Linked DNA regions of Homo sapiens. The protein of the gene in region 1 purifies or fractionates together with the protein of each later gene. This does not show direct contact. Each region holds a gene or a part of one and is shown in the gene's direction. Other genes may lie near its edges. The genes, in order: FSBP and DCLRE1B.

The links.
Region 2: the proteins of FSBP (region 1) and DCLRE1B purify together in Homo sapiens (affinity purification with mass spectrometry; one large-scale study listed by BioGRID and IntAct). This does not show direct contact.

The regions. Positions count from the first base shown.
Region 1 is NC_000008.11:94,430,314-94,434,005, reverse strand, and holds part of FSBP (fibrinogen silencer-binding protein), read left to right. Parts: intron 1-1,349; coding exon 1,350-1,875; 3' UTR 1,876-3,692. UniProt on the Homo sapiens protein: Transcriptional repressor that down-regulates the expression of the fibrinogen gamma chain. Represses transcription of GSK3B gene promoter via its interaction with APBA1.
Region 2 is NC_000001.11:113,911,456-113,914,914, forward strand, and holds the end of DCLRE1B (5' exonuclease Apollo), read left to right. Parts: coding exon 1-736; 3' UTR 737-2,631; downstream 2,632-3,459.

The DNA.
Region 1 (3,692 bases):
TTTTTATTATATACTATATATGTTTCATTTTGTCTCTTAGATAAATATCTGATATTTCTGGCAATTTAATGGCATTAGTAAGTAACGTATGGGTAGTTTTAATCTTTTTCTATGCATTCTGCTTGAACTTGTTCCAGCATTTTAATCATCCATGTAGAATGTATTCTTTTAATTATGTTTCTTATTATATGTAAAATCTTCTCTAAATAATATTAAATAAAGTATTTCCATTCATGTTCAATGATCTAATTTCCCTTTATAACTTTTATTTTTAAGTTAGGCAGAAGCATAAATTAAAAAAAACAACCTCAAGGAGCAGATATTCTTAATTCACAGCTTCACGTTATACATAAAATTATGTTTATAAAACAGAATTTTAAGGTTTATTGCATTTATAATATCATAACTTGTTATGCTGAAGCTTAAATTATGCTAAAGCTGTAGTTGTCTCCATTGGGAATGCATATTTGGTGGAAATTATGTGTAAATTTAATAAACCTTTAATATATCTGTATAGGCCATTAAAAATGTTTCATTAAAAAATCATTTAGTTTGTTTTTTTTCAGTCATTCAACACATAATGAGCACCTACTAGGTTCTAAGTACAGTACCTGCTAGGTACTGAGTATACAGTTGTGGATTAAAACCATTGCTCTTGTGAACTTTACCTGACCAGTGATTGAAAGACTTAAACAGCATCTGAGTCATATGGTTCAGAATAGGTAAAACGGAAGTTTTTCCTATCAGATAAAAGCATCTGAAATAAGAAAGTTAGGATAACCTCCAGTAGTTGAGCATATCCCAAAGCCATATACAATCTTTATGTTTTATTTTTTGGGCAAATGCAGAAATCAGTACCTCCCATAGATGGCCTTTCACTGTCCTTTTATAAGTTATGGGCCTTCATGGTTTTAAGATCAGTCCAGGAGAGCAGAAGCCTGAGGTCTAGGGCTAAGGTATGGGGATAACAAGACTGAGAATGCATTAAATGGCTCTGTACACCATTTGAAAACCTTAGGGTTGTGGGAAAGATTGGTGTCTGTTTGACAACATGAAAACTGGCTTTTCTTTTTATTTTCTTCATTGGCCTTCTATAATATTTGTAATTTCCTGCTCCTTTAAAGCACAATTTTAAAGTTAAGGATGGGGGAGATCTGTGAGTATGTATTATTGAAATCCCAATCTTAGTCACTTTAATGTATTTCAAGTGTTTAAGATTTTTTTTTATTTTGTAACTTTATAGTTTTAAAGCTTTATCATTTAATGTACATTAAATTAAAATTATGCTATAAATATACACTTTTTCTTCATTTGATTTACATATTATAATGCTTTTTTGTGTGCTATAGTGCAAACTTGGATGAGGAGGCACAGGCTGGTACCAGTTCACTACAGGTAATGTTGGATCACCATCCTGTTGCTATTACAGTGGAGGTGAAGCAAGAAGAAGACATTAAACCACCTCCTCCACTGGTTTTAAATTCTCAACAGAGTGATACTTTAGAGCAAAGAGAAGAACATGAATTAGTACATGTTATGGAAAGATCCTTGTCGCCTTCACTTTCCTCTGTTGATATGAGAATGACATCGTCTCCATCTTCTATTCCAAGGAGAGATGATTTTTTTCGGCATGAGAGTGGTGAACACTTTAGGTCACTATTAGGGTATGATCCTCAGATCCTGCAAATGTTGAAAGAGGAGCATCAGATAATTTTAGAAAATCAAAAAAATTTTGGATTGTATGTTCAGGAGAAGAGGGATGGATTGAAAAGAAGGCAGCAGCTAGAGGAAGAGCTACTAAGAGCAAAAATTGAAGTGGAGAAGCTGAAAGCAATTCGCTTACGGCATGATCTACCTGAATATAACAGTCTCTAAGTTTTTTTTTCAATCTTGCAATTTGATAATTTTGATTTTGGCCAAATTACTTTAATTTGGGAATATCCTGAAACAGAATACACGTTCTTGAAAAATGTTGTTAATCTCTATTATGGAAAAACTTTTTAGATATAATTTTCTAATTATTTTCTTTTGAGATATTAAAATTTACTGGTTGGTTGGCATGGTTATAGTTTTTATTGTCTTCTTTTTTTTTTCCCTAAGTTTAATTGTTGACCTTACAAAAGATATTTTATTCTGATCACTAAGATATACACAAATGCATATACAAACACATATTCTTTCAAAGTTCTGAGTCTTCAACATTTTTAGTTAGAACTTTGAAAGCTATAATTAGAGATTTTTAAGTCAGTCTAATTTAGGAGCTATACTAACCTAATACCAAGAAGCTTGTCTGTATGACATTGGTTTTTATGCTTTTATCTTTTGAAGGAGTAAATCCTAGGATTTTAGAGATGGAAGATATTTGGAGAACACTTTTTTTCCATCTCTGCAGTTTAGGGGTAATGAAACAGGTCCAGGGAGAACTCAATGACTTACTTAGGGTAACAAAGCTATTTATGGCAGAGCAGAGACCAGCACTTAGTTTTTCTTTGTGTAATTTCCATCCCGCTATTCGATAGAAGTAAATATCCACTAAAACATTCTCTAGATTTAAATATTAGAAGCATTTCTTTCATTAAAATTGCCTTTAAAGATTGTTAGGTTGTGAAATCAGGATAATTACATCAATTACCCCCATTCTCTCTCTATTTTTGTTCCAGCAAAATAGATAAGGTATTCCATTGAAGCTATTATATATTTTGGCTGTGTGATTTAAAGACATGTCTTAATTCATTTTGAATGTCCTGTTCTGGAAAAAATTTCTTTCACAGTAAAAATCAGAATGAACAAAATTAAAATTTTATGTATTTTATAAGTATTGTTATTTTAGTATTCATGGAAATAAAACCTCAATTCTTAAAGCATACATATTAAATTTATATTAAATCTCTAATATGTATGTTACTTAAGAATTTCTATTTTTGCTGGGGTTTTGTTGAGAAGGGATTTTTAAGCCAAGTTGTAGAATGGGGTGGGTGTAATTTCAGCAGTGAAGGGGACCATGGGTGTTTGAAGTCAAGAGTGAGACGCTGGAAAAAAGACAAAAGAATGGGAAAAAGTGGATTGAGTATATAAGCACAAATGCAGTGCTAAGCCATTGATTTTAAGTGAATGTAGAGAGAGTCAATTTGGGCTGTAGTATCCTGGACTAGGAAGGACATCTCCCTGGACTAGGTAGGGTAGCTGCTGTTTAGCTCCAGCAGAATTTTCACATGCGGGGATAAACCAGAAATCTGCATTTTTTAATGAGGAATCTTCCAATTTTAAAATGTTTGCAAATAACACAAAATGCTTTTAAAACATTATACAGACAACATGTGAGTGGGCCTCACTGAGCCATTGGGCTTCCACTTTGTGGCCTTTGGAGTAGACCAATGGTTTTCCAAGTATGGGTCCTGACCAGCAGCATCAGCATCACTTGAGAACTTGTTAGAAATGTAAATCCATTTCCAAGTGAATTAGAAACCCTGGGGGTGTCAGCAATCTCTTTTAATAAACCCTTTAGCGATTCTGATGCATGCTAAAGTTTGAGAACCAGTGAAACAGAGTATTTTGGAACCTCGCTTGGTGCCTAAATCATACTAGTCTCAAAATTTTTGTCGAAGAGTAGTTGAAAGTGAACTGAGGGATATAAATTTGGATGATGGTTGATACCAGATTATGAATTACATTAAATACTTTTTTTTTTTTTT
Region 2 (3,459 bases), on another chromosome or scaffold:
ACTGAAGCCTTGCCAGGTGGTGCCCATTGTAAGTCGGCGGCCCTGTGGAGGCTTTCAGGACAGTCTGAGCCCCAGGATCTCCGTGCCCCTGATTCCGGACTCTGTACAGCAATACATGAGTTCTTCCTCTAGAAAACCAAGCCTTCTCTGGCTGTTAGAAAGGAGGCTAAAGAGGCCGAGAACCCAAGGTGTTGTGTTTGAATCCCCTGAGGAAAGTGCTGATCAATCTCAAGCTGACAGAGACTCAAAGAAGGCCAAGAAAGAGAAACTTTCTCCCTGGCCTGCGGACCTTGAAAAGCAGCCTTCCCACCATCCTTTGCGGATCAAGAAGCAGTTGTTCCCAGATCTCTATAGCAAAGAATGGAACAAGGCAGTGCCTTTCTGTGAGTCTCAAAAGAGGGTGACTATGTTGACGGCCCCACTGGGATTTTCAGTGCACTTAAGGTCTACAGATGAGGAGTTTATTTCTCAAAAAACCAGGGAGGAAATTGGTTTAGGGTCCCCCTTGGTACCCATGGGAGATGATGATGGAGGTCCAGAAGCCACAGGGAATCAGAGTGCCTGGATGGGCCATGGTTCTCCCCTGTCCCACAGCAGCAAGGGCACCCCTCTTCTAGCTACTGAATTCAGGGGTCTAGCACTCAAATATCTTCTGACTCCAGTGAACTTTTTCCAGGCAGGGTATTCTTCCAGGAGATTTGACCAGCAAGTGGAAAAATACCATAAACCCTGCTGAAGACAGGAGAGTACAGAATGACAACATTGAGCCCACACTGCAGTTTTGAAGATAGTAACTGATGGCTGGTGGGAAAGAGTTTGTTTTTGGGGCCTACTTTTCTATCTTTACAAGACTCTTATGGGCCCACCGTGGAGCAGCACTTCCCAAAACTTGTTCACTGGGGTCCTCGTGCCTATGGAATCCTTCTTTTTATAACTAAGTTTAAGAAATACTTTTTTTATAAAATCTTTGGAGTATGCGTGAGCAAATTAAAAGTTCTTTGAAGTCCTACAGTAACTTAATCTGTTTAACCTTGTTTAACCCAGTATTTCTCAAACTTTTGTGAACATGCAATCATCTTATGTGGGTACAGAAAGAGGTAAAGAGTCTGAATCAAAAAGGACCAGGTTATTGCTGTTGCTGTTTTGTGGTGTCATGAGCCATTCTCCATGTCCCCTTCTCCCTCTTCTCAGATCAAAATCCCTAGGGAGTTCTATTTTTAAAATTATGAACTATGGCGCTGCATGCTTCAATCCTGAACGTCACTGACTTGCTGTGACCATCCAAATAATTTTCCTGTCTCTGCCTCTGGGAGGGAACAGGAAGCGATGAAGAGGTCTTGGAACAGTAGTGAAAATTCTACCTCTATGTCCTTCATGAGGATGTGCAGTATCCCAGTATCACTGGGATCCATGTGGAACAGAGCCAGCTGGGGGGTTGGGCAGCTCTCTCCAAGGCAGTACCTAGAGCCCAGCTGAACAACAAGGCTTTGGGTGTGAAGGGACTCCCCAGCCTGGAGACCCTATTTGGCTGAAACAGTTACAAAATATCAAATGTGTTGTCAGATATTCCTCCAATTGTTCACATAGCTGGGATATTTGTTGCTCCCCTCACCCCTTGGATTATGTAGGGAGCCAGTGCACACAGCCTGTTTGTTTTAGTATCCAAGGAAGAGACCAAGGAGCCAGCTGGCGGGAAGGGGTGGGGGTGTGCAGTCTGCCCTGTCCTTCTGCTCATAACCTGACAAAATGCCAAACTAGTAAGCAGGATAGCTGATACCACGGCTATGAGGGAGTAGGCTCTGAGAGGGCACAGACTTGTGGAGCTGGGCGTCTGGATCAAAACTGCTTTGGGATGGAACCTCGAGCCCTAGCAGTGAAGAAGATTCCATTTCTTGTCCAGGGGATTTAAAAGAGTTTTCTGCTTTGAGAGAGAAATAGAGAGTTTAGAAAGCAATTGCTCTTGGGAAAGCTATACACAGCTCTGTTTTGTCAATGACCTTTGTTGTAAGTCTCCCAACGTCCTATTAGGAGCCACAGCAGGTGAGGCATTTGGTGCAGCAGGAAACATGGGGACTGCCTAGGCTCGAATCTGTGGCACCCTGAGCAATTACTTAAATTGTGGAGCCTAGTTCCTCATCTGTAAGATGGACTTGAGATTCCTACCTCTCATGATTACTATGGAGATTGAATAATTGGTAAAATTCTCCTAGCTCAGTGACTGCCACAGGATGGGTCTTTCAGATTTTGGTTCTCTTTAGCTTCTGGTTCTTGAAAGAAATTAATCTGTATATAACATAAGAAACTTTGAAAGTCAAAAAAACAAAAAATTTTAATTCCTCGTAGATTAATTGATTTGCTATCTTTTAGTTTTTTTTTCTATGCATGTAGATGTATTAAATATGTAAATGTTTTTCAAAGTTGAGGTAATATTGTATAGAATTTTATAGCCTACATTTTAATTTCTTGATATCTTAAGCATTTCACTTATTAGATATTGTTCAAAAATGCCATTTTTAATATTTGTATAATACCCTATCATGTGAGTATACCTTAACTAAGCCATTCCCATATTCAACATTTTGTGTACTGTTTTTCTAATTACATATATTACAATGAACAACCTTATGCATATATTTTGCATTTTTATTTCCTTAAAGTAAATTACTGGAGTTAGATTATAGTTTTAAGTTCTTGATACCAATTGTGCTGAATTGCCCTCCAGAAAGGTTTCCTGACCATCTTTTCTGCAGACAGGATAGCATTAAAATACCTTGAAGACTCATTAGTTTAAATGAGATCACAAGAACGGTACATGTTAACACATGGAAAATCATCTCATGTGTTAACTTAATAAATAGCTACTAAACTGTGTGGGCAAATTTAGCTGGACTTCCTCTAGCATCCTCTAGCTGTCTGACTTCTAGGCGGCCGAAGGTGGCTGGGAGAGATAAGGTAGTTCTCAGTACAGGGGTTCCCATATTGGCGTTATCTTCTAGCAACAAGGGAGCCCGTCTACTCTTGGCACATGCTGTGTCACACCTGTTCCTTCAAGTGGGTTCTATATGCATTCAGATAGGGGAGGGGAAGCAAAAGACTTTGAGGAATTTAGTTGTTGGTAGCATGTTTGCATTTGTTTGTTTGGCTTTTTTTTGGAGACAGGTTTTAGCTCTGTCACTCAGGCTGGAGTGCAGTGGCACAGCCATAACTCACTGCAGCCTCGACCTCCCAGGCTCAAGAGATTCTCCCACCTGAGCCTCTTGAGTACCTGGGACTATAGGCATGCACCACCATGCCCAACTAATTTTTTTTTTTTTTTTTTTTTGTAGAGATGAAGTTTCACTATGTTGCCCAGGCTGGTCTTGGTGTTGAACTCCTGGCCTCAAGTGATCCCCCCTACCTTGGCCTCCCAAAGTGCTGGGATTACAGGCATGAGCCCGTGTGCCCAGCCATGTTTGTGTT